Homo sapiens: one gene and its partners. The protein of the gene in region 2 purifies or fractionates together with the protein of the main gene of each other region. This does not show direct contact. Each region holds a gene or a part of one and is shown on either strand. Other genes may lie near its edges. The genes, in order: DEF8, SERPINA1, STATH, HPX, ANGPTL7, SLC25A13 and EDEM3.

Evidence for each region.
Region 1: the proteins of SERPINA1 (region 2) and DEF8 purify together in Homo sapiens (co-immunoprecipitation; one large-scale study listed by IntAct). This does not show direct contact.
Region 3: the proteins of SERPINA1 (region 2) and STATH purify together in Homo sapiens (affinity purification with mass spectrometry, with the first as the bait; one large-scale study listed by BioGRID). This does not show direct contact.
Region 4: the proteins of SERPINA1 (region 2) and HPX purify together in Homo sapiens (affinity purification with mass spectrometry, with the first as the bait; one large-scale study listed by BioGRID). This does not show direct contact.
Region 5: the proteins of SERPINA1 (region 2) and ANGPTL7 purify together in Homo sapiens (co-immunoprecipitation; one large-scale study listed by IntAct). This does not show direct contact.
Region 6: the proteins of SERPINA1 (region 2) and SLC25A13 purify together in Homo sapiens (co-immunoprecipitation; one large-scale study listed by IntAct). This does not show direct contact.
Region 7: the proteins of SERPINA1 (region 2) and EDEM3 purify together in Homo sapiens (affinity purification with western blotting, with the first as the bait; one study listed by BioGRID). This does not show direct contact.

The regions. Positions count from the first base shown.
Region 1 is NC_000016.10:89,951,755-89,955,254, reverse strand, and holds part of DEF8 (differentially expressed in FDCP 8 homolog), read right to left. Parts: exon of another isoform or gene 2,573-3,500; intron 1,879-2,572; exon of another isoform or gene 1,735-1,878; intron 1,013-1,734; coding exon of another isoform or gene 1,003-1,012; coding exon 879-1,002; intron 87-878; coding exon 1-86. UniProt on the Homo sapiens protein: Positively regulates lysosome peripheral distribution and ruffled border formation in osteoclasts. Involved in bone resorption.
Region 2 is NC_000014.9:94,385,803-94,389,983, forward strand, and holds the start of SERPINA1 (alpha-1-antitrypsin precursor), read right to left. Parts: upstream 2,801-4,181; 5' UTR 2,758-2,800; intron 1-2,757.
Region 3 is NC_000004.12:69,994,526-69,998,765, reverse strand, and holds the start of STATH (statherin isoform a precursor), read right to left. Parts: upstream 2,801-4,240; 5' UTR 2,741-2,800; intron 344-2,740; 5' UTR 329-343; coding exon 278-328; intron 1-277. UniProt on the Homo sapiens protein: Salivary protein that stabilizes saliva supersaturated with calcium salts by inhibiting the precipitation of calcium phosphate salts. It also modulates hydroxyapatite crystal formation on the tooth surface.
Region 4 is NC_000011.10:6,430,988-6,434,487, forward strand, and holds the end of HPX (hemopexin precursor), read right to left. Parts: intron 1,031-3,500; coding exon 900-1,030; intron 817-899; coding exon 654-816; intron 484-653; coding exon 224-483; 3' UTR 62-223; downstream 1-61. UniProt on the Homo sapiens protein: Binds heme and transports it to the liver for breakdown and iron recovery, after which the free hemopexin returns to the circulation.
Region 5 is NC_000001.11:11,188,113-11,192,154, forward strand, and holds the start of ANGPTL7 (angiopoietin-related protein 7 precursor), read left to right. Parts: upstream 1-1,242; 5' UTR 1,243-1,467; coding exon 1,468-1,843; intron 1,844-4,042. UniProt on the Homo sapiens protein: Has a role in the formation and organization of the extracellular matrix.
Region 6 is NC_000007.14:96,179,099-96,182,598, forward strand, and holds part of SLC25A13 (electrogenic aspartate/glutamate antiporter SLC25A13, mitochondrial), read right to left. Parts: intron 1-3,500. UniProt on the Homo sapiens protein: Mitochondrial electrogenic aspartate/glutamate antiporter that favors efflux of aspartate and entry of glutamate and proton within the mitochondria as part of the malate-aspartate shuttle.
Region 7 is NC_000001.11:184,720,359-184,723,858, forward strand, and holds part of EDEM3 (ER degradation-enhancing alpha-mannosidase-like protein 3 isoform 2 precursor), read right to left. Parts: intron 3,499-3,500; coding exon 3,393-3,498; intron 1,029-3,392; coding exon 931-1,028; intron 1-930. UniProt on the Homo sapiens protein: Involved in endoplasmic reticulum-associated degradation (ERAD). Accelerates the glycoprotein ERAD by proteasomes, by catalyzing mannose trimming from Man8GlcNAc2 to Man7GlcNAc2 in the N-glycans.

The DNA of each region.
Region 1 (3,500 bases), on a different chromosome or scaffold from region 2:
GAAGTGGTCCTCAGACAGGCCGAGATCCATCACGCGTTCAGGGCAGCGGAATTCCGGCTCCCCAGGGGGCAGCTCAGGCAGGGCCTCTGGAGGAAGACGGGGACAGGTGTGGAGCGTCAGCTGCTACCTCCTGCCTCCCATCCCCTAGGGAGGAGCTGAGATAGCCAGGAGTGGGAAAGGGATTCAGGAAGCCGCACAGAAAGGAGGCACCGTGAGAGCTGGGCACCACTCAGATCTGCACACCGTCCAGTCTGCATTCACAGAGGAGCCCACAGCCTTGTGTAGACAGGAAAGAGCCACTCAAAATGAGGAGGTGGAATGACACTCGGTGCCAAAAGTCCTCAAGACAGCATTATAGAGACATCCCATTTCTAAGGTGGACACCTCATGCGTGACCACGGGGGCGAGAGAAAAACCACTGCATGGCTACACAGCAAAATCCACGAACCCCAGTGTCGACTCCAGGCCGTCTCTGCAGCTGCCCCGCTCCAAGCACTCCCTGATGACCTCATCTGCAGTTTCTAAAGCTCATGCCACCCTGACGCCCAGAGCACGTTCCCTCGGCTAACCTCTCCCTTACCAGGTCTCAGCGCTGACCGCACTCAGCAAGTGTTCCCTGAGCACCTACTATGTGCTGGGCCCTAGGATGCAGCAGTGATGGGTCAGGCACAAATCTTGCCCTCAGGAATGTGAATTCTAGTGGGGACACAGAAACAAACCACACGACCACAGAAGAGATGGGAAAAAGAACACAGCCAGCAGGTGCCGGCTCCGTGGGAAAGCCAGGGCTGCGCAGGACGCGGCAGGAAGAAAGGAGGGGTCCACGTAAGCAGTCAGAGACCTGCCCAGCTCCCACCCTGACTCCCACCAGCACCCACCTTCAGGAGTGACGTCCGGGACCTCCTCCCCAGGGCCCTGCTCATGCTGTCTCGGCCCAGACTGCTTGTTGAAGGGGTTGAGGTGGGCCTGCCGGAAACGGGCCAGCTTCTCATCATATTCCATAGCATCCCACCTGAGGGCCAGGCAGGGCCAGGATGAGTCCCCAGGTACCAGGCTCACCACGGACCACCCCCTTTCCCCAACCACACTGGGGTGTCTGGGGTGAGGCTGGCCTCTTTCACTTCCCTAAAGTGGGTAGTCCTCACACCACAGCCTTGATCTTCAGCCTTTTCCTGAAACACCTCAGCTGCCTCCTGCCCAGGCCCCCACTGGTGGCGTCCCCTTGGAAAGAGCTCACGGTGACAATGAGGGTCCCACGAGGGCACGTGGCCCATCTGAGGGGCCCAAGCTCCCTGCCTCCCAGCACAGGGTCCTCTTGCCCAATGTTGCAGAGCTCCAGCCCTAGAGCTACCTATGGGATCCTCTCTGGGCCTCAGCCCCAGATACTCACTCAGCCCCGCTCTAGCTTGCTATCCACCTGCTATGTGAGACACACCTCTCAGAAATGGGTTCCTCCTTCCTGGGCCCCAAGCAAAGGTGCTTTCTTGTCAGAGCACCCTGAAACCACAGCCCCTGTCTCAGGACTTAGGGTTGGACACTTGGGGACAGTTCCAGGGCCCATTCCTGCTCTGCCACAGGTGAGTGAGCAGGGCCCACCTTCCCCATGCCCAGGAGCAGGGGATCTTGGGAGGATTCCCTGCCAGCACACAGAGAAGCCCCCTACAAATGCATCCAGGCTCTCTGGCCTGGGTTCTGATCCTGTGATGAGCAACACGACCTGAACCAGGCCCACGGCTCTGTGCCTCAGGAACCCAGGAAACAGGCCGGAAGGGCCTAGTTCTCCACGTGGCAGAAGCTCAGGATCAAGAATTGCTCTTTCCCCACCCGGAGGCTCAGAACACTGCAGAACACACAGGGCTGATGGCTCCTGGCAGGGAGGAAGGGACTTTGGTTGGGGTGGGAGTAGAGGCAGTTGGCATCCAGCCCTCCCACTTAACTTCCTGGGCCACATTCCTTAGCCTCTCTGCCTCCATTTCCCCATCCGTAATGGGCCATTGTGAGGGTGAAATGAGTTAACAGAGACTGAGCACAAAGTAAGCTCGCTGTAAGGTCTGTTGATGTTATAGAAAGTCGGAGATGTCTTTTTAAAGTTGTTCAGTAACTGCAACAGTGTTAGTTATGCTTTCACTACACCTGCTACAGTGTTAGTTATGCTTTCACTACACCTGCTACAGTCTGAAATAATTCACAATTATAATAATCAATCCTATGATTTATCCTCTGTCTCTTCTCCCAAAAGAAAGAGAGCTGAGCCCAGAGGGGACGGCCCTGCTCAGGGTCACACTGTGGCCTGGAAGAACTGGGATTTGAACTAATTGCCTCACTGGCAGTGGGATAAGGAGGCCACCCCAACCCCACATGGCTGCCCTGCAACTGGGCAAGACTCCACACCACCTATGGGGCCTGTCCTGCCTGTTGTGCCTGTGGGGCAGGAGTGTGGGTTGGGCACCTGCACGCCAGCCTGAAAGGACAAAGCACCCATGGACAGGCTGCCCGTGGACCCCAACAGGGAGGCACGGGGAAGACACAGGGAACGTGAGTGGGCCCCAGTCCCACCTCCTTCTCTTATTACCTGATGACTGTGGGTGGGTCACAGAGTCAGAGGCGGCCACCCGATGCCAGCACCTCCCCAGTCTCCCAGGGAGCACCCAGGACACAGGAGAAATCAGGCCATCCCAACATCACTCCTCCTTCTTCCTGAATGAGGAGCCTCATTTTTGTTTGTCACATAATTTCCCAGCCTCCCCAGCAGCTAGACCTGGTAAAGTGACTGTTCTGACCCCCTCGGCTTGAGAAGATCAGGCAGATCTGAGCAGCTCTGGGCTCCTGGCTTCACTGACATACCCAAGTGCTTAGCCCTTCCATCCACCCCAGGAAGTACGTGTTCTCCCTGATTTATAGGCAAGAAAAGGGAGAACCAGAGACTAAATCAGGGCTATCTGAAAACAACAGTAATGGGCCGGGCGTGGTAGCTCACACCTATAATCCCAGCACTCTGGAAGGCCAAGGCAGGAGGACGGCATCCGGCCAGGCCCAATGCAATGAGGCCCTATCTCTATTAAATTTTATACAAATATGGGCTGGGCGCCGTGGCTCACGCCTGTAATCCCAGCACATTGGGAGGCCGAGGCGGGCGGATCACCAGGTCAGGAGATCGAAACCATCCTGGCTAACACATTGAAACCCTGTCTCTACTAGAAATACAAAAAATTAGCCAGGTGTGGTGGCAGGCGCCTGTAGCCCCAGCTACTCGGGAGGCTGAGGCAGCAGAATAGCGTGAACCCAGGAAGCGGAGCTTGCAGTGAGCCGAGAACGCACCACTGCACTCCAGCCTGGGCAACAGAGCGAGACTCCATATCAAAAAAAAAAAAAATCTTTTTTACATAAATATGTATGTGTGTGTATATACATATATATGTGTGTGTGTGTATACATACATATGAGAAAAAAGAAAAGACTTCTGAGAATTGTCCTTAAAGGTAGGGGCTGCCCCTCTTCAG
Region 2 (4,181 bases):
CCACACCCATCCATCTTTCCTGGTGTCACATCACCTACTCTGGTTTCCTCCTTTCACAGTGAAGAGTTTGAAGCCCAGAGAGGGTCAGGGCCTTGTTGAGGCTATACAGCAAGTCAGTGACAAAGCTGGAACAAGTCTTGGCTTTCCCAGCACTCAGATCATGAACTGAGACAGCTGTGTCCTCAGATCTCAGATGATGAATGTCAGAATTGGGCTGTGACATTGGTCTCAAGCATCATGTTGGGTTCATTATGCCTCCCAAGCTGTTCCTTATAACATCAGGACTCCAAAACCTGCTCTCTCCTGGCCCTTCTATCAGAGGCAGCACCCTGCACTCCTAAAAGCTAGTGCCTGGGAGGGCGACTGGAGAGGAGAAAGTCGCCATCTGGCCAAGTACCCCATGGTGTACGGACACTGAGGCCAAGCTTTAAACCAAAAGAATGAAGGCTTCATGGTGACATTTCTGGGATCGGGGCAGGTGGGAGCACTCTTTGCGGGGCCAGGGACAGGGAAGCGAGCCACTCCCTGCCTAATCTCACACCATTTCTACCCGGGAGCATAAAATAAGGGACCAAGAGCAACCCGGCAGGGTGCAGGGAAGAGAATCTCGCCTATGGTCAAACAACCTGTTGAACTGGGCAATAAATAAACCCAAGTGTGACCAGGCCCTGTCACTTACTGGCAGGGGGCCTGGGGTAAATGACTTCACTTCTTTGAGCACTAGCTTCATAGCTGTACAATGGAGAAAAGAATCCTTTGGACAGGGATGAGGAATAACTGACGTAATGCATGAGTGGGCACCAGGTGAGGAAGCCCTCCCTGTACCTGCACACAGGTTGAGCTCCTGCCCGAGAGATGGTAGATTTCTTCCCGGAGAGCCTGCTGCACTCCCCAGGACCATTTCAGCAGGAAGGGGCTCCTGCTCAGCAGTGAACAGCATCTGAGTTTGGCAAATTTTCCATTAAATTATCCAACTGTTTACTGCCTGCCAGCTGCCTAACCCTATGCTAAGCAAACATCAGCCTCAGCGTCACCATCATTGCCACACTTACTAACACCTGGTGTTTTACAGGCACCGTATCATCTAATCTGTCCTCAAAGCTTACCCTATAAGGTGCAAATTATTAGCCCTATTTTATAGATAGAAAAATTGAGCCCCAAAGAGCATTAAATAACTCACTAAAAATCACAGAGCTACTTGCTTACAAAACTGAGATGTAATCCTAAATGTTTTGTCTGGGATTAAACAGATTTCACTCCAAAACCTGACATTGAATCATCTCTGTGTACAAAGCTGAAGCCAGAAGTCTTGAATCAGAAAACTTCAGAGGCAGCCTGGCTAAATGAAGAGGGGAGCATCAGTCTGTGGCTAAAATTAAAGGCTCTGAGGCCAGATTGCTCCACGTCAACTTGCTATTAGCTGTGTGACCTTGGACAAGTTACTTAACCTCTCTGAACCTCAGTTTCCTGGAGATGAGAAAGGTGGACTTTGTCATAGAGCTATTGTGAAATTAAATACACATAAAATGCCAAGAAGTGCCTGCTGCGCAGCAAGTTCTCGAGAATACCAGTTCTTGCTGCTATTGCTGCAGGTCTTTTAGAGGCGTTCTATAGGAAACTGGCCACCTTGGCCTTGGTCATCTTTTTGACCTGTCTCCAAAACTCAGTGCAGGAAAAATTAAATCCTTCCAACACTTCAGAGATCAAGGTCGGGTGGGGTGAGGGGAGGGGACAGAAGTCAAAGGTTATCATGTTTTGCCCAAGAGAACAGAGAGGTTGAGCAACTGTCTGAAGTCACCGAGCATCAGAGAGGCCTCAAGTCCAGCCCAGGTTTCCTGTTCCCCATCCAGCGCCTGAGACCCAAGAGAAACAGTGACACTAGGGCCAGGTTCAAGAGTTTGGGGACTGGAGCCAGGTGCCTGAGCCCGAATTATGGATGGTGTGTGATTTGGGGCCAGTTATTCACCTCTCTGTCCCCATCTTCCTCATCTGTAAAATGGGAATCACACTAGTAACTGCCTTGGAGGGTTATGAGGCTTAATCACGCACTGAGCTTAGCCGTGGCCTGGTGCAGAGCGATTATTCAGGAATGCCAGCTTGAGCCCTGGGTGACAGTGCCCCTCACAGCTTCCTGTCCTCCACTGGGACAGGAGGGCCCAGAGGTCCACGGTGCATGGGGAGGCCCATTTTGATGTAAGGCTGAGGCCTGGCACAGGTCTGTTCCTGGTCATATCTGGAGGGGATGGAGAATGTGAGCCGGCGTTCCTCCCCACCCCTCTCTGGACCTTAACCTCCTCATCTATAGAAGGGGAGAAAGATGCATGCCCAAGCAGTAGGAGAGGTGGTGAGGCTTATAGGAGACAACAGACAGGAGCCCCCGACAGACAGAGGAGCTGTGCAAACAGAAAGAAATGGCTGCGCTTTGTTGCTGTTGCTGTATCTTGGCTGGTGTCCCCCATCCTGGGGTGCCAGGACTGCAGACCTAGACACCCTCATCCACTTCTGCTTACAGGAACCAGTGTATCCACCAGGAGGTACCGAGGGGGGACCGGGCAGGACTGGGAAACAGGACACAACCCTCATGGCTGCTGTTATTATGAAAATAGGAGCTCAGCTGCAGCCTCTCCATCTGCCCTGCACCTCAGCAGGCGGATACCCACTCCACAACCCCCCTCCTGCCCCAGACCTGCTGCCTGCCTGGGCCATGGGGAGCTCAGAAGCCTCTCCAGAACCTCTCGCAGTGAAAGGCATACTTACGATTCACTGTCCCAGGTCAGTGGTGGTGCCTGAAGCTGAGGAGACAGGGCCCTGTCCTCGTCCGTATTTAAGCAGTGGATCCAGAGGGGCAACGGGGGAGGCTGCTGGTGAATATTAACCAAGGTCACCCCAGTTATCGGAGGAGCAAACAGGGGCTAAGTCCACTGGCTGGGATCTGAGTCGCCCGCCTACGCTGCCCGGACGCTTTGCCTGGGCAGTGTACAGCTTCCACTGCACTTACCGAAAGGAGTCATTGTACCTGGCTCAGAAACCACAGCGTCCTGTGTCCAAGGTGGAGGGGGTGGCGTGAGTCAGACAGTCTCTGGGAGAGTACCACTTAGCTGGCCCTCTGCTCTCACTGCAGAATCCTTAGTGGCTGTTCCACTGGTAGCAAGATCTACCATTTACTGAGTCACCCCAAAATGCCTGATGCTGAAGACTTACTGCCGCCCTGGGAGATCAGAGTGGGTTAGAGCCCATTTGACAGATGAGGAAACAGGCTCAGAGCGGAGAGACCGCTCATCCAAAGTTACCCAGTCAGCCTTAGACACAAACACCCTCTTGATGGTCCCGATGGAAAAATGGAGCATGACTGAGGCAGACACAACCGTCAGGCTGGCATGGGGGGCCGTGAGACAGGGTAGAGGTGGGGAAGCACATCTGTAAAGAAGAGCTGTGCTGCCTCAGGCAGGCCGCTTCACCTCTCTGAACCAGGAACTGTTTCACCTGCATCCCAAAGAGTTGGAAGTTTCATTCCCAAGCATGCTTGTGAAGTGCCTCGGGTGAAGTGCCTGGCACACAGTAGGCTCTTTATGTGGGTCTGCACAGCCCTCTGCTTAGTCTGCCCCCCAGGCTGCTCAGAGCAGGAGGAGGTTCAATTTTGACCAGCCTCAGGCCTGTTTCTGTTTTTGCTCCTGGAAAACCAGTGTGATCCGTATACAGCTTGGAGTTTCTTTGGATACATGGCCCCCACTCTGGGGTTGTTGGAGGCCTTTGGAGACTGCTGGGGGTGGAGGGGAGGGGAGGTACAGGGTTGAGGCTAGTGGGGCCCCACTTGATTGCAATCCCTTTAAAAGCCTAAATCAGATTGCATCGCCCGCTGTGCAACCCGCAAACCTGCTTGGGAGCTGGCGTACGTGCCGTAGATACTTGCAGAGTGAATGGATGAGTGCATTTTTGCCCCTTCTGTCATTCACCAGTCCCATTTATGCCTCCACCTTGGGGCTCTACCAGGCGAGTGACCCACAGGATCCTCCAGCACACACATTCAGACCAGGGAACCCACTTACTGGCTGTGAGGCCTCAGGTGAGTTGTTTAACCGCTCCGAGCCTCAATTTCCCTATCTGTAAAATGGGGATGGTGACGGTATGTACCTTGTTGAGCTGCTGTGAGGATTAAAATGCAACAGTTCAAGGAAAGCTCA
Region 3 (4,240 bases), on a different chromosome or scaffold from region 2:
AAGCTCTCAGTTCCACATATTTAAGAAGTTCAGTAAAACTTTCTTTTATTTCACACTAAGCTAAATATACTTTAGTGTCTGTAGATGAATAATGACTATTTATTCTAAATCCTTATATAGCTTATGTAGGTTAGTACAAAAAAAAGTTCATATGGAAACATTTAAACATATAAAGCTGTATTCAAGTAAACACCAATATATGCCAGAACACAAGGAATAGAGAGACTCTTGGGATAGGTACTGAGAACATATTCTTCAAATGTCCTGATATACTTACAATCATGGAAACCATGAGAGCCAAGATGAAGGCAAAGACAAGGAACTTCATAGTTGGCTGGGTTCTCTGAAAACATATGTGGAAATTCAGTATCACATTTTTTCTTGCATTCGCCCATCAAAAGTTTATTGATTATACTACGCTCCAAAGCACTGGGAGACACACTCCAGATAGAAAGACAATTAAAACCCATTGCCTGACATCATGAAACTTGGAGACTTGTTGGAGACACTGATAAGTAAAAGTGAGTGTATTGATATGGAAATGCTAAGGCATTAGAGTAACACACAAATCAACACCTTACACAGACCAAGAGAATAGGGGTATGAAGGTAAAGAAGAAAGTAAAGCTTGAGTTGGATTATGCAGGATGAGTAAAGAGGTGTTGGGTGACTGCAAGAAAATGAAAAAGAGGGAGGATACCATATTGAAAGTGCAAACAGTTCAAAATGTAGGGAAGATAAAACTGGAGCAGTTTATCAGAAGATAAAACTGGAACAGTTCAAAATGTAGGGAAGATAGAACTGGATATTATGGGGCGCCTTAAATAATGACATTAGGGATGATATTTAAGGTACAGTGTAAAGAGATGTTTGGATGTTAGAATGACCAGCAATGGGCAATCGCTTTATAATGTTACTGAAAATGAGCCAGATTTCTGTCTTGAGAGTTGCAAAAATGGGGTCACCTTCAGATTAGAACATTAATGATACTGGGTAGAGAACAATCAAACTGATAAGAAGTCACAGAGAAAATATTCGTACCTCCTCTGAGAAGTTGAATTGGTGAAGATGACTTAATATTTTAAATAATCTCATTCAACAAAATTAACCTTATCTGGGACTGTGATATGTTATCATAAACAGTATAAGCCAGTTAACCCAGTTCCTTTGTTATTAAACAAAAAACGTTAGATTATTTATTTGTAAATTATAAACATCTAAATAAAGACATTTTCAGTGAAACACATAATTGCCACAAGAGTTACAAATAAATGACATTTTTACCTGTTTATTGAAAACTATAGAGTAATTCATATAAAGGTAATGGTCTTCATTATTTTAATCTCTTTTACCAATAACTTGTGATAAAACATTACAAGAATATTTTTTACCTAATTATAAAAAAAATTACTGTTATTAATAACCCCAAATCTCCAAAACATAAAGCAGAACTCATGATTTATGGCATTTGCTTTGTTACTTATTCACTGATTTGCCTCAGTTATTCAAACTGAAATTTCTGGCCGGGTGTGGTGGCTCATGCCTGTAATCACAGCACTTTGGAAGGCCAAGGTGGGCAGATCACCTGTGGTCAGGAGTTCAAGACCAGCCTGACCAACATGGAGAAACCCCGTCTCTACTAAAAATAATAATAATAAAAATTTAGCTGGGCATGGTGGTGAGTGCCTATAATCCCAGCTACTTAGGAAGCTGAGGCAGGAGAATCACTTGAGCCCGGGAGGTGGAGGTTGCGGTGAGCCGAGATTGCACCATTGCACTCCAGCCTGGGCAACAAGAGCGAAACTCTGTCTCAAATTAAAAAAAAAAAAAAAAAAAAAAGGAAATTTCTGGTATTAGAGTAAGTGTAAAAATAATATGTACTTTGGGGTTTTTCTATCACCTGATAGATAAACCTACCCATCAGTCATTTTATGATGCAAAAAGCATAAAAACTTTAGTGTATTTTATACCTGTAAATTTTATTGAAAGTATGGAATCAAAAAATGCTCATAGAAGAGTAGTTTTGTTTTACTAACCTTGATAAACTGAAAGATGGATATATAGACATAGATATATAAATATATATGTCATGGTTTTAAAAAAATATTTCCCCAATGAAAAATAATAAAAATATGAAATAGTAAAATCTTTGTTTTCTGCCATATCACAACTGAATGAAAACAACTTAAGTAATATAAAACAGTAAGGCAGTAAAGCATGACTGTTATACAACATTTTTTATTATGCAGAATGACATAACTGTTTAAAATGATGGAAAGGTCAATGAAAAGGTAGTGAGAAATGTTTACTTATGGGAAAAAAGTAAATTTTTAAAAGTTAAACTTGTGAAACAATATATACATTTGCAAAAAAGAGAACGTATGCTATTTTCTTAAAATATGAACTTCGAATAAAGGTAAAAGTAGTAAGTAGCAGAGTAGATGCCAGTACGTAGACAAGGAAATAAAAAGCTTTTCAGAAGTTCCATCAGGAGAGAAGTTGGAATATGTCTCCATATTCCACATTATTTACTTTGCATGATGATTGCTGATTTCAATGTATAGTTATTCAGATTCTCAACTTACCTTCAGATCCTAAGAAGGTCATCATTTCTCTCAATTGTTTCTTTATGAGAAATTATCATTACATAAATACACATTTTTATAATTAGTTTTCAAAAGATTTTAGGAAGCAACACTCTAGATTAAGACAACATATTCGATTATACATGAACATATTACCTTTTACTCAAGATGAGACTACAGAAGTAGTGAAGTTGAAGTGAAGCTTCAAGAGATGATGTGCTACCCTAGAGGGCCAATGTATTTAAACACTCTGAAGTCCCCCATTTGTTTTTGTTAAATAATGGCAATTATGAGATCACATTATGGAAACTAAAAGTAATGCCCAAAATCTGTCTCTACAAATGATAAAAATAACCGTAACAAAGTGATTTTGCAATAGATGATTGTGAAGACAAAGTAACCAGGAAACAACTGTACCCACTGCATGTTAATCCCACTGTTAGTCTAGCGCTGAGTGAGTCAGATGACAGAAAAGCATGCTGGAGGAAACCAGGCATAGAAATAATTGCAGTGATAAAGATGTTTCCACAAGTATGTGTCCAAGGTGGAACAACTCTATGACACAAATAATACTTACCATGTTATCAAGATTTTACATGTTCTCTGATAACTCGTGGTAACTGGCATAATAAAATTACAGTCTTCATATACTTCAAGAGTTTTTCTTCAAATCATTATTTATCTCATACTTTTACCATCTTCTATTGACTTTAGAATATTTTAAGTTACAAAGTGAACGTAAACATTTGCCAAATTCAGTAATCTTTTGGGTACTATATGATAAAAAATTATTATATTTATGGTGAAATGACTCTAAGTGCTCACTGATACATATCTCACATATGACTGAATATATGTATTTGGAAATTCAATTTAATTTCCTGGAGTTTTTAAGGCTACATATTTTTCCATAGCAGCCATGTGTTGACATGATTACACTAGAGTGAAGGAAAAAATGTTTTCATTACATTCCTAGGAAAATTTGTGTAAAAATTACCCTACTCACTGCTGGTTGGATAACTCAATGTACTAAGAAACGAATATCAAAAACTTATATATAAAGTTGAGGTAAGTTATACAGCCTAGTGCATTGTTCCTCAGAGTGTGCCATATGGGAACATCACAGACAGCATCAGCTGGAGCCTGTGGAAATGTAAATTCTTAGTCCACCTTCGCAAACTTGCTGAGTCAGAATCTTGGGGTTGTCCTAAGGCGTTTGCATTTTAACATTATCTCCAGGTGATTCTTTGGGTACTGTGAAGTTTGAAACAAGGCTGGTCTCAGTGGCTCATGTCTGTAATCCCAGCACTTTGGGAGGCCGAGGCAGGAGGATTGCTTGAGCATAGAAGTTCAAGAATAGCCTAGGCAACATAGTGAGACCCGTATCTCCACAAAAACATAAAAAAAAAAACAACCACATATTTGTCTCTTGAATGCATTAGTTATCCTTAGGCTTTAACCAGTAAAGATAATTTGTGGTTTAATTTTGTATCAGATTTTTTAAGGAAGTATTTATTAGGTAAATTTTTATGCTGTATTGGAACAGCCTTACTGGAAATTATGATTACTCTCTGGGTAATATACAAGAAAATATAAATCATTTCTTAAGGCAAATAAATAATTCAAATTAAATTAGATAGATATTATTCTTATTCT
Region 4 (3,500 bases), on a different chromosome or scaffold from region 2:
GGAGAAGTGCTAACTTTTCAACTCAAAGAAAGAAGATTGTTTCACGACCAAGGTCCCTTGATTCAAGTGAAGAAGCAATCTGTCTTTATTATGAGAAACTGGGGAGGTGGGGCCAGGCCAGACTCATGTCAGAAGGCCCCTCAGTGAGAAGCGAAGAAGCAATCTGTCTTTATTATGAGGAACTAGGAGGTGGGGCCAGGCCAGACTCATGTCAGAAGGCCCCTCAGTGAGTGCAGCCCAGGAGACTGGTCACATTCTGGGGTTGCGGAAGGGCCTTGGCTGCATTCAGTTTCTCCACATCACTGTAGCAGTACAAATTGGGACCATGGATGAGGTACAAGCCGGGACCATTGGCGGAACATGAGTTAGGGCCAAGGGACTTTTCCATACACAAGGCTCCGTCTACCTTCTCATGGGGCCAAGGAAGCTCTGTCCACGTGGCTTGGGCTCCTGACTTCAGGTCCAGCCACCACAGCCGCCGTCCTGGGGAGAAGGCACCAAACATAGCATGGCTTCCATGTCATGGGGATCCTGACCTAGGCCTTCTCATGCCCTGGGGATCCTGACCTAGGCCTTCTCATGCCCTGGTGGGGATCTATGCCACAGACAGGTAGCAGAACAAGCTGCCCTCTAAGCACCCAGAAGCCCCTCACCTGCCATGATATGGAGCCGAGAAGACCCAGGGCAGATAAAGGCCGCATCCACAGAGTCCAGGATAATCCCATGAGGGGTCCCGACTTCCTTCTCCAGCCGCTTCGGATAACCGCTTACTAGGGTATAGCCTCCCTTTGTCAGGAAGACATATACCTGGGTGCCCTGGAGGACAAAGGATGGTAATAAATACAGAGTTGGATATGCTTGTCCCAGTCTCTACCTCAAGCCTCTCCCCCAATACACACCTGGACCAGATAGAGTTTTTCTTCCCAGGAAAAGGCAGCATCCACTGCTGAAGGACCCTGGGGCCACTGATGAGCAATGGGCCAGCTATGCCAGCCATCCCGGCTGGTGTCCAGACGCCAGTAGTGGGTCCCTGTGGAATACCATAGGTTGCTCTAGGGCCGCTGGCAGAAGCCCAGGCAGAGAAGAGGCTAGTGATGAATGCAGAAATGAGTCATGAGAGGGAGAGAATGCATCCAGAGGCCAAGATGGAAGAGGCCAGGTGAGAAGGAGAAATAGAGCAAGACTTGGTCAGCAATGTTGGGCACTGTGCCCTGGCTGAAACTGGAATCAGCAGGTGCCTGAAAGAAAGGCAAGTGTGGAAAACAGTGGCTAAGTTTCCAGGTAAGGCCAACATCATGGGGTTGGCGGGCACTCCCTAAGGATTTCAGGTGTCCATGTACAGAGATGCGGTTATAGATAATGAAATACAGTGTCCAGAACTTAAAAAGGAAGCACCACTTCTACTGAATGTTCTCACTCTGGCTGTGTTCTCCAGTCTCTCCCTATGAGGTGGTGGAAGAGTGAGGGAGTAGCTGGGCTAGCACCCCGTTTTTCTTCTCCTCTTTTCACAACAACTTATTAAGGAATTATCTAGGCTCCCATTTGTCTTTTTTCCTCAATCCTCTTCAATTACACTTCTGTTTCCCTCAACCATTGAAATTGTTCTTATCCAGGTTGCTAGTATTCTCCAATTTGCGAAATCTCATGGTCAATTCTCTGTTCTCATCTGACCCTACCTCTCAGGAGCACTGGACTGCTCACTACTTCCTTCTCCTTTAAATGTCTTTTTTTGGAACTTGGCTTCTGTGACACCTGACTCTCCCAGTATTCCTCTTATCTTTTTTGACTACTCTTTTCTTCAACCTGATATCTAAATATTGGAATCCCCTACTTTGGGCCTCTTCTCTTCTCTCTCTACCTTCACTTCCTTGGTAATCTCACCTAGTCCAGGGGCTTTAAATGCCATCTATATGCTGATGACTTCCAATCTGTTCTCGTCAGCTCTGACTGACCTCTCCTTTGAGGTTTAGGCTCCAAATCAGCTGCCTACCTGACATGCTTATGGGGTGCCAATAGGCACCCAAAACCTAATATGCCCAAACTGATTTCTGCCCCCCACCAACACACACACTCCCTAGTCTTTCCCAATTTTAGAAAACAAAACCACCAGCCACTCAGTTGCTGAGTCCACGAAAGCTGAGTCATTCTTGAAGCCTCTTTTCCCTTCCCTACTCTGACTGATATCATTCATTCATTCATTTATTTAGAGACGGAGTTTCACTCTTGTTCCCCAGGCTGGAGTGCAATGGTGCAATCTCGGCTCACTGCAACATTCACCTCCCAGGTTCAAGCGATTCTCCTGCCTCAGCCTCCCAAGTAGGCTGAGATTACAGGCATGTGCCACCATTCCCAGCTAATTTTGTATTTTTAGTAGAGACGAGGTTTCACCATGTTGGTCAAGCTGGTCTCGAACTCCTGACCTCAGGTGATCCACTCGCCTTGGCCTCCCAAAGTGCTAGGATTACAGGCGTAAGCCACCACACCCGGCCTATCTTAGCTATTAGTTAATGCTGTCAGCTCTACCTCCAAAATATATCATGGTGATTCCTCACCACCTCTGCTGCTATCATCCTAGTCCAAGCGGTCATCACCTCTAATTTGGACAACTGCACGGATTGCTAGCTGGATTCCTTGCTTACATGCTTGTACTTTTATAACTTATGTTCTGCAAAAAGTCAGAGTGATCTTTTATAAAAAATGAGTTAGAATATATCACAGCCCTGCTCAAGACTTTCTGATGACTCCCTTTTATGGTTGAAAACCCTTACCAGGTCTAGGTAACCTGGCCACTGCCGTCCCTGCCCTTTCAAGTCACCCACCTGCTCTTTCTCTGTGTTCCAGCCTCACCAGGCTTCCTTCTTGATTCCTTGAAGTATGTGCTGCTCACCCTCCCTAAAATGCTTTTCCTCCAGCACATCGTGTGGTTAATTCCTTCTCATCACTGAAGTCTCAGCTCAAAAATCATTTCTTCAGAAGACAGCCCTCATTCTCCTCACCTCTATCCCACTATCCTGTCTTATTTTCTTTACAACCCTTAATATTACCTAAAATTATTCTCTTTCTTCCTTTCTCTTTCTTATTGTCCTCTCTCACTTTAGCAGAGCCTGTCAGGGCAGGCATCTTGTCTGCCATGTTGACTACTGTATCTCAGTGCCTAGGACAATGCCCACTTCTTATCAGATGCTCAACAAATATTTGTTGAGTAAATACCTAGTGTTCTTGCTGCTACCACAAGTTCTCTTATTAGCCGTGTACTGAGTATACAGCGGTGACTGACATATCCACCTCCCCTGGGAGGTTTCCCACTGAAATTACCCTGCTCAGGAACCATATTTATTTTATTTTATTTATTTGTTTTTTGAGACAGGGTCTCAATCTGTCACCCAGGCTGGATTGCAGAGGCACAGTCACGGTTCACTGCAATCTCTGCCTCCCACACTCGAGCAATCCTCCCACCTCAGCCTCCTGAACAGCTGGGACTACTGGTGCATGCCACCACA
Region 5 (4,042 bases), on a different chromosome or scaffold from region 2:
TGTGGGAAGGACCCACGCTGACTACAACAGTACAAGTAACTGCCTGAGTGGCTCCATAACATGGAAACAGCAATCGTATGTTCCAAAGACAGAGTTACTGTTTTAAGGACAGAGGAACCTTTGTATAGATTCTTAGTGAAAAGCTTATTTTAAGGATGTTTGCTGAAACTCCATGTTTTTCACATTTCTTTTCAAAAGAGCATTGTCCTTCATATATAGTACATGAAAAATTACAATATTCATGTTTTTTAGATACAAAGTCATATACAAATAGAGGAGGAATAATTTCAAATTGCAAACCATACCAGCAAAGAAAGAGGGAAATGAGACTCTAGATATGGATTTATTAGGTGACAGGGATTCTTTTCTCTATATTTTAATATATTTTCCAAGTTTTGAACCACGGGCTAAGGATGGGCCTGTTCTCTGTCCTGCCTAGAAACTGACAGAAGCATGGGTGACCAATCCCAGACATGCTTGGCACTGCTGAGTTTTCATCTCTGTTGTAATCTTCTGACACCTCCTTGCAAAATATCAAGTGTTATATGCTAATACTGGCCCTCTCTTTGTTGAAGGAGAAAGCATGTAAAAAGACAACTGTCCAAACCCTGTGGCTACAAAGTCTTTTTTTGGCTTCCTAAGAGATTTACTCTATTCTTCTATTTCTAGAACTTTTCTAAGTTGGAAGATTTCAAATGTGAGATAGTGTTAGATCCAGGTTGAGTAAGGATTTTATAAAATACTAAATAATGATCAGAGATGGGAATAATCAGCCTAGATAAAAGCATATTCAGCAGGATGTCAAAATATACCAGATCCTCATATAAACAGCATGGATTACATTAACAGGCCTCCCTGGGTGAGTAGCGTCTCTTTCGCCTACCTTACGCTCACCCCATGGTTATATAACCTTTTGAACGGAATTTGGAAATTCTTCTGACCCTGTCCTGCTTGCTGATAGAGTTGAGCCAGTGGCTGGCAGGGGCATAATCTAATAGGCGAAACTGGAAACACACAAATTCACAGTCCTCTTGTCTTAGCCCAGAGACTGTACAGGCAAGGAAAGAAAGACTCGCCCCATCTCCCTCCTCCCCTCCTCTGGCCTAAGTTGCCGCTGACTTCACCCAACAGGCACCTGACCCTCCCAGATGAGCTGGGAGGGGCTAAAGCCTGGTGCAGCCATGGTAGGGGTGGAGGTACAGGCAGCAAACAATATTTAAGATGCTGACTTGTGGAGCATTCGGGCTTGGAAGGAAAGCTATAGGCTACCCATTCAGCTCCCCTGTCAGAGACTCAAGCTTTGAGAAAGGCTAGCAAAGAGCAAGGAAAGAGAGAAAACAACAAAGTGGCGAGGCCCTCAGAGTGAAAGCGTAAGGTTCAGTCAGCCTGCTGCAGCTTTGCAGACCTCAGCTGGGCATCTCCAGACTCCCCTGAAGGAAGAGCCTTCCTCACCCAAACCCACAAAAGATGCTGAAAAAGCCTCTCTCAGCTGTGACCTGGCTCTGCATTTTCATCGTGGCCTTTGTCAGCCACCCAGCGTGGCTGCAGAAGCTCTCTAAGCACAAGACACCAGCACAGCCACAGCTCAAAGCGGCCAACTGCTGTGAGGAGGTGAAGGAGCTCAAGGCCCAAGTTGCCAACCTTAGCAGCCTGCTGAGTGAACTGAACAAGAAGCAGGAGAGGGACTGGGTCAGCGTGGTCATGCAGGTGATGGAGCTGGAGAGCAACAGCAAGCGCATGGAGTCGCGGCTCACAGATGCTGAGAGCAAGTACTCCGAGATGAACAACCAAATTGACATCATGCAGCTGCAGGCAGCACAGACGGTCACTCAGACCTCCGCAGGTAAGGAGACCAGTCCCCTGAGGGAGCGTGGAGTGCCTCCCCATCTACAGCACTGCTTCTACATATCCTGGTCATCAGAACCACTACTGGGGCCTCTTTTGTGGGTACACTTTCCCTTTAGTAAAGGCTTATGCAGTATTTCCTTTGACTTCTAATGCTATGTAAGTTTACCTAACACCTTCACGGGTCTCTTTTATCCACACAGTGTTTCAGCCTACCATCTTGGAGTGCTGAGATACTACATGGTTTGCCCAAAGTCACCCAGCAAGTCTTAGAAGCAGGGTTCAAGTCTTCCTGATTGGTGTAGCTCTGCTACTTCCTCACCAAGAGCTGACAGGCTATATCTCAAGAAATTCCAAGGAAGCACCAAACTGTAACAGCTGTTCCTCTGGAAGCAAAGTTTTGCCAGAAACAGTTCTCTGGTGTTCCTAAGATTTACCAGGAATGAGCATTAATGGAATTTTGTGTCCTCTCTCTGTAAACGTAACTCTTCTCATTGGCTCAGAGTTAAGTGTAGAGACACATAACCATGTGAAGAGTCCCTTTGTGTTCAGGAAGGATGCGGCTCCTTAAGGTTCCTCAATTGTGATACGTCTATTTTTTTCCATGGTCTTAAATGAATTTCTCCGAATACAGGATTTTTTAAATGCAATGCTGAAATATAGACTTAATAGGCCAAAAATAAGATAAATTTAATCTTTCTTTTGCAAAATAACTTTTATTTCTGGTTAGCTCAGCTCAGGTGGGCCAACATGAATTTACGGTTTAGAGATAAAAATTTGGTTTTCTGAAATTATCAGGAAAATATTAGTTGTAAGGAGCATATCCTATAGACATGTCATTTCTTGCTGATATAAAAACCATTGGTCCCATTATAAACTACATGAAGAACAAAGACATGATCAGCTTCTACTGACTAAGTCAATGGTTAACCTCAGCTCAAATTAAGAAAAAGTTTTAACATGAAACCAAGCTTGAAAATTCTGTTACCTGAACCAACATGTATCAATCACTTTCTAAGCATGGACTTCCGGGCCCTCAGTTTGGGATTAGAAAGGTATTCTCAGGCCATTTTCCAGACAAGTGAGTCCTGATTTGGTCTGTGAGATGAAACCAGACATGCGGAAGACCAGGCCAGACAGAGGAATCTGACCGTGCCACTTCCTGCTCATCCAAACAGGAGGCTTTCTCACCATCCTGCAAGGAGGTTCTTGGGGTCAAGTGCAGCTCTCCCACCAGGTCTCTTGCTCTTCTTGCCCAGGACATCATTCCTTATTTTTCTTCTCTATGACCAAGTGCTCAGTTACCCTTATATTCTATAAGTAGGTAGTCCCTTAGAGGAAGCAGTAAGTTGGTGCTTTCACCACTAAGACGAAATGAAGAATAGTGATGGCGAAGGCACACGTACTCTACCTCCCTTTCCCAAGGTGCTCTGCAAGAGAACCTATGTGCCTCAGACAACTCCCATCTGCCATCTTGGTGCTCCTCTCTAAGGTCCCAGTGCAGTGGTCACCAAGAAAAGCACCCCGAGACATAGCAGGCAGGAAGCTTCTCTTGGATAGTAAGGGCCGCAGTCTCTGAATCCTATCAGAAAAGGCTGTCTCTTCCACTATGCTCTTTGATATTTAGAATACAGAGCTTAAATCCTGCATAAAGTAGCAGCTCCATGGCCCTAGAGTAAAAAAACTGGCCAGTCTGATGCTCTCATTTCATTGTTTTAACAAAACTTCTGGGAGGAAGGCCTCAAAGGTTCTTCTGAGTGTTTTGAGGTGCTAGCTGGATGGAAGGGGAAAATATGTGATAATAAAATCTATCTCCCTTAATTATGGTCTCAGGTGGCAGTAGCCACCATCTCTGAACAACAACAAAAACAACCAACCAGGAAACATCAACAAAACCAGACTCTATGAGATATTCACGACTGATTTGTTATAGTGGCGGCTGTCTAAGAAGTCTGAATCTATCTGACAGGAGTATCTGTTACGTGGCCCTCATACACTGTAACATTTCTAGAATTCATGGCCCAGCTATAGCAGAATAATTTATTTCAGAGTTAACCTGAAACCACCTGTTGGAACGTCCCACTAATGCTATCCAGGTGAAGGGCTTCCCTACCCCTCTGCTCCACCGCTAGTAAAGCCAAAATACACCCCCTCTGGATCTCCCCATATCCACCTCTCCCAAATGCAGACACTGATG
Region 6 (3,500 bases), on a different chromosome or scaffold from region 2:
TATGATTATGGTCTGGAAAAAAATCAGTTCCTCAACTCCTCTATTCTGGGGCTTTCTAGAAGTAAAGAGAATTGGGGAAAACGATCAGATACTCCTGCAGTTTTTCACCATAGTACATGAGAACGTTCAGGATCCTGGTTATCTTTTCTTCTATCTAAACTATTTCCCTCCTACTGAGGTTTAATCTATCTCCCTTGTTTTAGTCTCAGCAACAGTAGCTGGTTATAAATTATCATTTTTGAGGTGTGGAACTAATTCATTCATTAACCTCTTCTCTAGGATACCTACACGTCTATCTTTTTGTCATATTTTTCCAATTTTCTAAGGTCATCAGTTGTTACTGTAGCACTCTCAAGTCTCTAACAATTCTCTCACCCACCTTAGATCCAGTGTGTGTCGCCTCAGTCTCAGATTACAATGCCCTGTGCTCACTAAAGTTAGCTCACTGTAGATTTCTGGAGATTGGCTAACCCAACAAATGATCTGTTGAAATCTTCTGCTCATTCTTATGTGGCTTCCTATAACCAAATACATGTCTTCTGATATTTTTATAGCTTAATGCTCTAAATGAAAACGTGCAGAAATTGGCCAAGAAAATAAAGACTCAAACCTATCCATTTTGCAATCATTAAAAGTTTTGGTGGACATGGATGGACATGAGTGCAGTTCACAGATTAACTATGGTTTGTTTCAAGATGCATGTGTTCTTAAGTAATGCAAAACAGTCATGGAAATTTCAATCATTTTATTTTGGTGCCAGAATTTTAAAGTTTATTTTATCCCCATGAATTATGCAAGAATGAAGAATCTCACTGTGATTCTAAAGAATCTGGATACTCCCTTTTATAGTACCATCAATGATAAGGGACCTGGCTTAAACTAGCTGCCTGCCAAAACTTCCCTCTGCAATATAAAAGTATCAATAACTCCCTGAGATATCACCACAACATCCTCTAGATGTCACCTTGAGAACATTCCAGGATGGAAGATGACTGCTTTGCACTACACAGACAACTTGAAATAGAAATATTTACAACTCTGCAAGCTTGGATCAATGGGCTGATTAAAAAATGTGGTTTTTTTTTTGCCAATTTCCTCAAAGGTTAAGCACTGCTTAAATTAAGTTTAATTCATAAAATGATCTAATTACTCTTTCTGGGAGATTTTCTTTAGGGCTTCTCCCATCAATAGAAACAAAAATTTTCGTCTAAGAAGTATTTCTGATAGACCCTGATTTCTATCTCTTTTTTTTTCTAAATTGAGACAGAGTTTCACTCTTGTCTCCCAGGCAGGAATGCAGCGGCACAATCTCAGATCACTGCATCCTCCTGGGTTCAAGCGATTCTCCTGCCTCAGCCTGTAGCTGCGATTACAGGCCCGCCATTATGCCCAGCCAATTTTTGTATTTTTAGTAGAGACAGAGTTTGGCCATGTTGGCCAGGCTGGTCTTGAACTCCTGACCTCAGGTGATCCACCCGCCTCGGTCTCCCAAAGTGCTGGGATTACAGGCATAAGCCACCGTACCCGGCCATATTTCTCTTAATACATCTTTTTCCCCAAGATTCTCCCAAAACATTTTCCAGTGTCTAAGGCTGCTCATCTCATCACCTGAAAGATCTGAGAGAGAAGACTGCAACAAAGTTTAAAAGCAGAAATTATTTATTCCTGGAACATTAAGAGCATTTAATTATGGATGATTACCCAATCAATTGTTGTTCTTTAATACGCCAGATCTATAGCAGGCCAATGACTGATTCATTTGGTTATGCCAGTCATTCAAACCAAACAAGTTGTCAGGTAATTCATTAAGGATTTCAAATACCTGAGCACATTAAATCACTCTGAAGACTGGGGAGGAAACAGAGAAAGAATTTTAAAAGTGACTTCAGGAAGACCTGGATTATCTCAGGTGTGATTTCCCTTAATACAGACAGGCTTGGCCTGGGGGTTGGATTTTCAGAAATAACAACAACAACAACAACAACAAACTAGGAAAATTTGCCATTTTCTTGTTAGGAAAAAAGTAGTTTGCACTGTAGAGAAGGTTTGCAGAGCCAGACTCATGGGATTTTTAAGGAGCTCTTTTCCAGCAACTAAAACTTACACAAAAATAGGAGAGAGGCTCCTGGAAATAAAGAAAACGGAGTTATACCAATACATGGAGAGCAGGAATTAACCAACTCACAACACCTCTCATGACTCTCTGAGGTATATTTCTATTGAAGAGCACTGCTAGGCACTCTCTCATGACTACCAAGCAACTTCCACAACTATTCTGATGCAGCCAGCTGCGGGGGAGGCAAAGAACAAAACTTGTGGTGGAGCACTACAAGAGTTCTTTTAAAATAACCTTCATTCTAATGCCACAGGGAAAGGCTTTTAAATGCAAAAACAGCTTCTGATATTCTTGTTATAAGAAAAAGAGATATTTATTAACCTCATAATAAGATCGCATGCTACAAAAACACCTTCTTTGAGGCCAGATGCCAACTTTTTTCAAAGTATACACAAAGGTAATTTTAAAGTAGGAGAAAGATCTTACAACTGCAACATTCCCAAATTATCTCATTCAGGAAATATGAGCAATTACATAGGCCTTGATAGAGAAAAATTACATGTTGAGCAAAATTCTGTAATACTAAAAACTATGCTCAATATTTAAAAACATGTATGAATTAAAGATGTACTCTGATACCTTCTCAAATATTGCTAGGTGAAAGCATTAATAGCAGCAATACTATATTTTCCTAATTTAAACGTAACAGTTTTCCTCTGGAATAATATAATTTTAAAATAAAGTTACATTTTATGAGAAATGTACAAAGAATCACATATAGGTATTTCATAATGTGACTTTGTACATAAAGGTGATAATACTGAGTCTCAGAAATATGTCAGGTCTTTTTTACTTATATTGTAATTTTTTAAATTAACAACAATAACCATGAGTTACCTACATTTTCATCTGATCTCTCTTACCCAATAAGCACTTACAAATATGCAGTTATATACAATTATTAATTATTGATGATGTACAAGAAACTAAAGAGAACTGATCCCTGACCAATCAAGAATAGGAACAAGTCATTTTCATGGCAAAGTTATGTATCATTATTATTTTAACCTGAACTGTCAGTCATCATTTTGCTCTCAAGATGATCCAAATTACAGAATGGGACTAAACAAAAATTTTACAGTAAATTTTTTGTTTTAAAATGGTTTACCAGAAAAGATATCAGGAAGAAATGAACACAGGTGACTCCTAGAACTAATCTTATATTCACACTCTACTCATCATCCTGACAGACAGCTCTGTCTCTTGCCCTTAAGGTTGGGGCACCCAAAGATAAATGGCCATTTCTAAACCAGGAAAAGGGTGAAGAGCTGCCACTTGGGTGTTTACAGTGAGCCTCTGTCTGTACCTAATATATTGACTTACTACTCCTCTGAGAAGTTAAAAGCAGTCACTCTCATCTTACAGATAAAAGAACTGAAACGGC
Region 7 (3,500 bases), on a different chromosome or scaffold from region 2:
ATAAACTCAATCCTCCCAATAACCCTATAAATAGTACTAGTACTCCCATTCTGTAGATGAGAAACAGAGGCAAATAATATTAGTTACTTGCCCAAAGTCACAAAACCCGTAGGTGGTACAATCAGAATTTAAACCAGTACATCTCCCATACTTTTTTTTTTTTTTTTTTGAGACGGAGTTTCGCTCTGTCGCCCAGGCTGGAGTGCAGTGGCGCGATCTCGACTCACTGCAAGCTCCGCCTCCCGGGTTCACGCCATTCTCCTCCATACTTTTAATCACCATGTCATACTGTCTCATACATACAACATGGATGAACTGATAGGTGAGCAAGGAAATGGTAGATTAGTTTAAAAAGAATATAGTGATATAACTGATGAGTTTGCTATATTCATTTCAGTTTGCTTCAGTTAAAAAGGTGATTCAATTGGGTTCAATAATCCTCCCACTTTTCCCAAAAAAACATGCTTGTGGTTCTGAACCAGTCTTAAGACTTGCTTTTGAAATGAATACTCACTAGTTTCTCCAGGTCTTCAAAGCCCTGTATCCTTGGTGTAATCAAAGACTAAGCCAAACTTCCAAGATTTCAAAAAGAATTGAAATACAAAGGAAAAAGCTAACTAGTAACATATTTCAATAATTCTTATCCTTGTACAAACAAGATTAGGTAAAACTCAAATCTATTACATCTCTTATTGGCAGATCTGCAAAGTTTCTGATAAAAGGTGAAAATAAAACTACTTTATCAACTGATTTTTTGGAATGTATATCACTTTTTACGCTGTCCCTGTTCAACATCATCAGGAAATACTGACACAAAACCACTACACATTTTAAAAATTATTTTTACAATGTCATTCAGGTAATGGAGTTTCTATAAAAATCTGGACTCAAATGAAGTTGATTATAAAATATAAAATTGTATCAACTTACTGTGTTAAATCTTTCCAGAAAACTGTCATCTCCAAGCAAGACATAGGCTTTCAACAGATATTCATAATATGAATCAATCCCTGCTCCAACTCCACTATCTATGGAAACACAAATGTGATTTTTCATTAAATTTTTTTAAAACCGTTAAATTTTTTTAAAAAAATAGCACTCCTTAGATTAGCATTAAATTAACATTGTGCATATATATGACTACACCAGTTTAGATTTGCCCTGGAACAGATAATTATATTTAAAATAAATAATTTGCTAACTAGTTCATAGTTTAATTAGCTCTTAGTTTCACTAGGTGGAAAATAAGCATCTTGTGTTCTTTAAGAAATTGGTATGTATAAATGAATAGTAAATTCACTTAAATCTTGAGGAAATCTAAAGATGAAGTCTCTTGTTTTGCTTTTTCCTAAAAAGGAAAAAAGAACCAAAGTCAAGAAAAATTAAAGAACAATAATAATATCTACTCTTAAAAAGAAGAAATGTTATCTAACACAAAAATGAAACCTATAGATTCAAAAAAACACCTATTTTACTGTCTTAACCAGTAAAAAAAAAATGATAGGCAGGTGGAGTCTAGACCACTTAGAACTGAACCAACTCTAGACAAAAATGAAGATGGTACAATGCTATGACTGCAAGGAAATGATTTTAAAAATTTCACAGTTTTCATGTTTGTAGCAATATGTTGATGCACAAAATATCAAAAATACAAGTCTGGATTTTTCCTCTTAGGTTTATAATACACTATCAAACTTCTATTTAATGCATTTGTATTTGCATTATAAATGCATTAAGCCTTCTCTGTTTATGTGTATGCTATACAAGCACATACATGCTGGTACGTTACCATGAAAATAATAGTTCTCATCTCAAACTAGTGACTCGTCTTTTTACCCATATTTATATACATTTCATTTCTATTGTAAGACACAACATTTTTCTAGTGGTACATTTAAATCAACATATTATGTTATTTTAAATCTTCATTTTTAAATGAGTCTTTTTAGTGTTATGACATAATGGATTTAATTTAACAGCTGAAGTATGATATGGTAACCACACTGTACTATTTAATTCACAGATGTAGGAAAATATTTGATTTTTAAACTATAACCAAGATGAGACCAGACAGTTATAAGCAGTGAAATACTAGAAAACAGTGAATGAATACACAAGATGACTTTTCATCAGTGGCCATTCAATATTTTGCTTTTAGGAACTTGGAAGAAATTGTCTTGAGTTTCAAATGTTCTGGTAAATCTAGTCATTTCTTAGCTTCCTCAGTATCACCCTGAATTACTGAAATAACTGACTGTGAAGAGTCAAAAGTTCTTTTCTGTCATTTAGATGACACAGAAAAATTTTATACAATACTGAATAAAGGTAATAATTTTAATATGTTTGAATTAATAATTTTATAATTTTTATTTATTTAAATATAGGCAGTTACCATTTATTTTACATATAAACAAGATAAGCTTTTTAGAAATAGAGAAAATGTATAAAAAAGATGCTTTCATTAAGAATATTCTAATTTATTTCCATTCATCTATGCTTATCAGGGTGTTTTATAAAGATAAAATCACAGTTCTTTGTACAATTCAATATCCTGTTTGTTCATATAACATTGTTACATGTTCCTTCCCATGCTCCTGATTTATTTTAATAACAATATTCCAACGCTGATGTAAAATAATTTTCTTAGCTTTTTTTACTGATGGTTAGACTGTTTCCCAATTTTCTGCTATTTATAAATAATTGCATGGGAACATCTTGGGAACAAATAATTTTCTATGTTTTGTATTATTCCTCAGACTAGATTCCCAGAAGTAAAATTATTAATCAAAAGGACTAACATCTCGTTACTGGGCACTTACTTCATAGTAAGTGTAGTACATGCCCGGCACTGTTCTAAGCACTTTACTTTGGTTAACTCATTTAATCCTCATACAGAACAACTAATTACTATTAATATGCCCACTTTACAGATATGGAATAGAGAGGCACACAGAGGTTAAATAAGTTTCCCAAGATCACATAGCTTGAATCCAACAACATGACCCCAGAGTCTATGCTCTTAGCTACTATATTTCTGGAGGTAGGAGAAAAAAAGAATTTATTAAACCCATATTCTTACTAAACCACACCTTGACGTGAGATGGCTGCAGAAATCTGGTTCTCTAGTTTTCAAATAAATTATAGCGTTTCATCTACACCCTATACCTATAATGCTATATCCATTAAGAAATAGAATACTAAATCATGTAGAAGAAGTGTGTCACATTTGGCATCAAAAAAGAAAATCTGGCTAAATTAATTAAAATTCCAGCAATCTTGTGAGAACCTATGCTTTATAGTATCCCAAAGATTATTTTAACAAATGAAAATTCTTTATTTCCCAACCATTTTGAGGATGCAAAGGCTTGATTTAAAAAGCCTAACTTACATACCTTTTCGTACCCAATCTCCAGTATGAATATTTATAGTCACGCCCACTAAATTACTACTTCGCTGTCTTTTTTCCCAGAGAAAATCAAGAGCTTTTCTGGCATATTCCT